2 separate regions of the Homo sapiens genome follow, and region 1 is linked to region 2. Evidence: fine-mapped expression QTL. Tissue or cell type: whole blood. Region 2 holds a variant in brackets; the other region holds the start of a gene. Each region is shown on its reference strand, or each on the opposite one.

Evidence for each region. PIP is the estimated chance that this variant, and not a neighbour inherited with it, causes the effect. A credible set is the group of variants that fine-mapping cannot tell apart.
Region 1: ANKUB1 starts here. The variant in region 2 is the best candidate, but not a certain one, in a credible set for the expression of ANKUB1 in whole blood (TOPMed, PIP 0.60).

Annotation. Positions count from the first base shown.
Region 1 is chr3:149,791,179-149,794,234 of GRCh38, forward strand. ANKUB1 (ankyrin repeat and ubiquitin domain containing 1) reads right to left here and starts at 1,376. Exons shown (of 6, transcript NM_001144960.3): 1 at 1,099-1,376. The coding sequence starts at 1,188. RefSeq lists an enhancer at 1-262.
Region 2 is chr7:50,335,037-50,337,536 of GRCh38, forward strand. The region is part of intron 3 of IKZF1 (IKAROS family zinc finger 1); the gene reads left to right. Among named protein-coding and RNA genes, the nearest start is that of IKZF1, 32 kb to the left of the region's middle. The variant T/C (reference allele first, on the strand shown) is at 1,439.

The DNA.
Region 1 (3,056 bases), not on the chromosome of region 2:
GGCAGCAAATTAAAGTAGGAGTAGTCGCTGTACCTGTGACTGACACCAATAGAAGTCACAGATGTTTTCATATCACATTATAGTTGTTGCAAATATTTCAAAATATTATTTCTACTGATCTGTATTTTGAAAATAATAGTTATTAGATGAGCTGCTAGAACTTGTTAGTTAATGTGTTAATTAGGAAGTCCACATGTCACTATATCATACATTTGCTTTTTAATATTGGAAAATGTATTTCAATATAACAAATTTCATTTCTATCATATCTGTTTTATTTTATGCATTTAAAGACATTCTGAGAAGCAGTCTATAGACATCACCAGACTTCCAAAGGGGTTAATAAAACATAGAGGTTAAGATCCCTTGTGTTACAAGATTTAGATTTCAATCATCATAATAATCTACTGAATATCATGTAACTATGGTTCAGTAAATGCCGCTTAGCAAATAGGAATGACCATCTCCAAGTTAAATATTTGATGATCAGAAACTAAATATTTTGCTTAATTTTTTATTTTAGAGTGAACATTTATATGAAATTTATAAGGAAGATACTATACCCAAGTTATTTCTTATTCTGGCTCTGTGATCCTAGGTAAGATAGTCAACCTCTCAGAGCTTCAGTTTTTTCTGAATGCAAAATGAAGCCATAGCTCACAAGTTCTCTAAAGTCCTCTCTGCTTCCAAAATCTTCTGTTCTTTGTAGTTGTTTGCTCACCAAATAAGACATTTATCTGATGACTGGCATGTCCCACGTATATAGCCTGAAGTTGGTGTCTTGCTTTGGTCCTTTTATGAAGAATTGCAATAATATTATCTGGCCTATGCACAACCCACACATTCCCTAAAAAGAAGTCAGACTTTTTTTTTTTCTTGATAATTGACTGGCTCTTTTTGCTTTCTTGTCCAACACTACCAGAGTTACTATCTTCTTATAAATCTATTGTGTAAGCAAATAATAGTATTTTCAAATAGTTTTCGTTCCCTGTTTGCTGAAAATGTACCCAATAGCATCTCTACCCTTTGTACATTTTTAAATGCACTGCATTGTTAAAATTAATATACATTTTGGTGGTTTGGGAACGAAGTACATACCTTTATCATCAGCTTGACAACCTCCACAGTTTCATCTGCTGAAACATCAAACGGTTCAAAAGATCCTTCAAAGGCGATGAAAATCCTCATTGTACAATTACCTTTTCAAACAAAAAATATCCAACTTTTTCAAAGATTCTCCTGGATGGCTAGAAAAATTCCGGTTCACAATTAAGGACAAAAATGATAGCCAGAGGCAGCTGTCACTGTCTAGCCTCAAAGGTAAGTTGTAGAATGTGAAGAGCCTAGTCCCACAGTGCCACAGTATCAGGCAACACAGACACCAGCTACTTTGGAGGAAATATTTATCTGCGGAAGGCAGTAGTCAATAGCCACCTTATTCCTATATTACGGAAACCAGCAAACTTGACAATGGTTGAGGCAAGTATGGACAAGCTTCAAGCATGTGATACAAAAATGCTACTCATAAATTACACTTTTGTGATGTGGTCCCCATCAACTGACTCCTGAATTCTTATTTACATAAGTACAGCTGATTGAAGAACCCTTAAAAATAGATATTTGATTGGGATGCACTAGCACAGGGTGAAGCAAAACAAGAGTTGATTTTATTGAATGTGATAATCCTGAAAGTTCTCTGTAAATAACTCTTGAGCTGAAACATTCTGGTTTCCATAACAACTTTGTGTACTTGTTCTCTGGCAGTATTTATAATCCTGCCACAGGGTACAGAACAATACCCACTTGCACCAGGGAGATGAATGTGTAGGCAAATCATTCTGTGGCTTTCTTTTCTGATTTCTGTGTCATAGAATCTGCTGAGTAGCAACACAATATAGTTGGTATTTTCTTTAATCCTTGCCTTTATGTTATTTAGAACAATTTCCCATTGTTATCTCCTTCAACCCCCACTTAGTGTTGGTGGAAAATATTTCAAACCCGCTCAATAAGCGAGCAAATAAGCTGAACATGGTGGCACATGCCTGCTATCCCACCTACTCAGGAGGCTGAGATGGGAGGATAGTTTGAGCCCAGAAGTTTGGGGGTGTAATACGTTGTGATTGCACCTGCGAATAGCCACTGCTTTGCAGCCCAGGGAACATAGCAAGAATCTGTCTCTTCAACATAATAGAAGAAAATACTCCATTTATAAAAGGAAAGATAATGTATTAAGAATAAACTTGGCTGGGTGCGGTGGCTCACGCCTGTAATCCCAGCACTTTGGGAGGCCAAGTTGGGCAGATCACTTGAGGTCAGGAGTTCGAGACCAGCCTGGCCAACATGGTGAAACCTTGTCTCTACTAAAAATACAAAAATTAGCCAGGTGTGGTGGCACATGCCTGTAATCCCAGCTACTCTGGTGGCTGAGGCACAAGAATCACTTGAACCCTGGAGGCAGAGGTTGCAGTGAGCTGAGATCACACCACTGCACTCCAGCCTGGGCAACAGAGTGAGACTCTGTCTCAAAAAAAAAAAAAAAAAAAAAGAAAGAAAGAAAGAGAAAGAAAGAAAGAAAGAAAGAAAGAAAGAAAGAAAGAAAGAAAGAAAGATCTTAACAAGAAATGTGTAAGAGCCGTATAACATAAACATAAAATACAATCAATAAACATAAAAAAGGGCTGAACAAGTGGCAGGTATATCATAACCTTGGATGGAAGGTTCAAAATTATTTAAAGTCATCAATTCTTCCTAAATTTATCTATAAATTAATATTATCTCAATAAAAATACAAGCAAGATTTTTTTTGTTTATGTAAGCAAGATGGTTCTAAAATTCATGTAGAGAAAACAGGCAAGGATAGCTGGAAAAACTCTGGAAAAGAAGAGTAATGAGGGGGCAGTCACCTACTAGATGTTAGAATTTAATATAAGGCTACAGTAATTAAAACAGGATGGTACAGGCACATGAAGAGTCAGAAAAATCAATGTAAAAATAGAAAGCATAGAAATGGATTCAAATACATAAAAGAATTTAGTGTATGGTAAAAGTGACATCTA
Region 2 (2,500 bases):
GTATGTGTAGTGTGTGTGGTGTGCATGTGTGCATGGGATGTGTGGTGTGTATGGGATATATGGTGTGTGGTGTGTATATGTTTATGGGATGTGTGGTATGTATGTGTGATGTGTATGTGTATGGGATATATGATGTGTATGGGATGTGTGGTGTGTGGTGTGGATATGTATATGGGATGTATGGTGTGTATGTGTGTGAGATGTGTGGTGTGTATATGTGTTGTGTGTGAGATGTGTGGTGTGTATATGTGTTGTGTATGTGTATGGGATGTGTGGTATGTGGTGTGTATGTGTGTATGGGAGGTGTGTTGTGTATGTGTGTGTGGGATGTGTGGTGTGTGGTGTGTATGTGTGTATGGGATGTGTGGTGTGTATGTGTGGTGTGTATGTGTGTATGGGATGTGTGGTGTGTGTGTGGTGTGTATGTGTGTATGGGATGTGTAGTGTGTATGTGTGGTGTGTATGTGTGTATGGGATGTGTGGTGTGTGGTGCATAGTGTGTATGTGTGTATGGGATGTGTGGTGTGTGGTGTGTATGTGTGTTGTATGTGTATGGGATGTGTAGTGTGTATGTGTGTTATATGTGTATGGGATGTGTGGTGTGTATGGGATGTATGGTGTGTATGTGTGTATGGGAAGCGTGGTATGTGGTGTGTATATGTTTATGGGATGTGTGCTGTGTATATGTTTATGGGATGTGTGGTGTGTATGTGTGTATGGGATGTGTGGTGTGTCTGTGGTGTATGTGTGCACATGCATGTGGCAGCTGAGCCACTGGGGTGTTTGCTGTGCCTGGGAGCAGGCCATGTGGGTAGGTAGGCCTGGCTCTATTGATTCCTAGCTGTTGGCCCTGGCAGGTGGCTCTGCTGTTCCTTCATTGTGAGGTGAGGGCGCCCCCTCACCCGATCCTGGCTGTCATGTCTGTGAAGCCTGACCCAGCAGGGCACAGCATAGAGGGCTGTCCAGAGCAGCTGCACTGATATCATCATCATCTGCATTTTGGCCTGCTCCATGTCTGACATTCCTGTTAAGCAGGTGGCTTTAGGGAGAAGCATTGACACACTGACCCCTACAAAAAGCTTACAGTTCCTCAGTGATAAAACACAGGGTGCAGCCCGTGGCCAGGCTGGGTCCCCGGAGAAGACTCAGTTGGCAAACGCCATGTGGTTGCCACAGCTGGAAGCACTGGGGGAGGAGGAGCCCTGCCTGGCCCCGGCGGGGGCAGGGGGAGGGTGCAGGGGGAGGGTGCAGAGGGAGGGGATGAGTCATTTTGCCACAGGCACGCATGTGCTGGTGAAGGGGCGTGCGTGGGGACCATGGGTCACATCTCGGCTGTCCCCTTCTTTAGGAAGGGGTGGAGGTGGCAGGAGTGGGGCGGGTTGCAGGCTCAGAGGCACAGGAGGCCCGCACTCGCTCTGAGGCTGAGGAATAAAGGGTG[T/C]GGTGCTGGAAAGGGAACCCTCAAACCTGCTGACCTGGGAATAGCCCTTCAGGGGGCCTGTCAGATAGCTCGCCCTTGGGACAGGCGGTGGCGAGAGGCCAGGAGGCCTTTGGTGCAGGAGGGGAAGAAAGGCAGGGAGGGGCGTCTCAGAGGGCAGAGAAGGGCATCTCAGCAGCCCCGTGGTGTTTGCCCCTTTGAGGCGGTTCCATCCGTTGGCTGCATTGTCCACTTCGGTGACTGGGGCCACAGTGATTCTGCTGAATGCAATGGGAACTGTACCCAGAGTAGGGGTTCGCATGAGACCAAGGGATGGTGTCTAGCCACGGAACAGTCTGGAAGGTAGGGATGTAAGTCATAGGGCAAGTTCCATCTGTGGGACACTATCAGCTCAGGAGGGACAGCCAACAAAACAGCAGGACCACAGGGGCCCTGGGGAGTAAATGCCTTTAATTGTCTAAGAGAGGAGCAAAGAAGGAGACAGAGTGAGTTGTGTGATTCGGGTAAAATTTCTAGAAAGAAACATGGCGAGAGGAGTTGCTGGGGACAGGATAATGCCCTAGAAAGAGGTGTCTGGGGGTTGGCGGTGGGTTTCCCACAAGCGGCTCGGTAGGATTGGGGCAAAACCAACCATGTGAGAGGGACCGGGAGCGGCACAGGAGAGGAGGCAGCAGCTGTGGGCTGTCAGGCATCAGGAACCAAGGGAAGAAAGAAGACAAGGAGCTGGTTGGGGTCGGGGGTCACAGGACTAGGGGATGGTATTTACAGGGTAGTCTTTTTAGGAGAATGTTTAAATGTGATTGAAGTCCAGTAAGTGGGAGCTAGCAGAATAGAAAGGATTAAAATCTAACTAGCAGCCCCAGGGTAGGCCGGCGTGAGTCACCTATGAGCTGGGCCTGGGCCTGGACTATCCCCTAGGTTTCCTCTTGGCGCTCTTCTCCCTTCCCTCAGGGCTCTGTGCAGTGGTCTCCACACAGAGAGGTCTTCCTGGACACATGCCCTAAGATAGCGTTCTCAGCACTGTTGCTCCTTGCCCTGCCTTATAGCAGCAACGTCACCACTCGT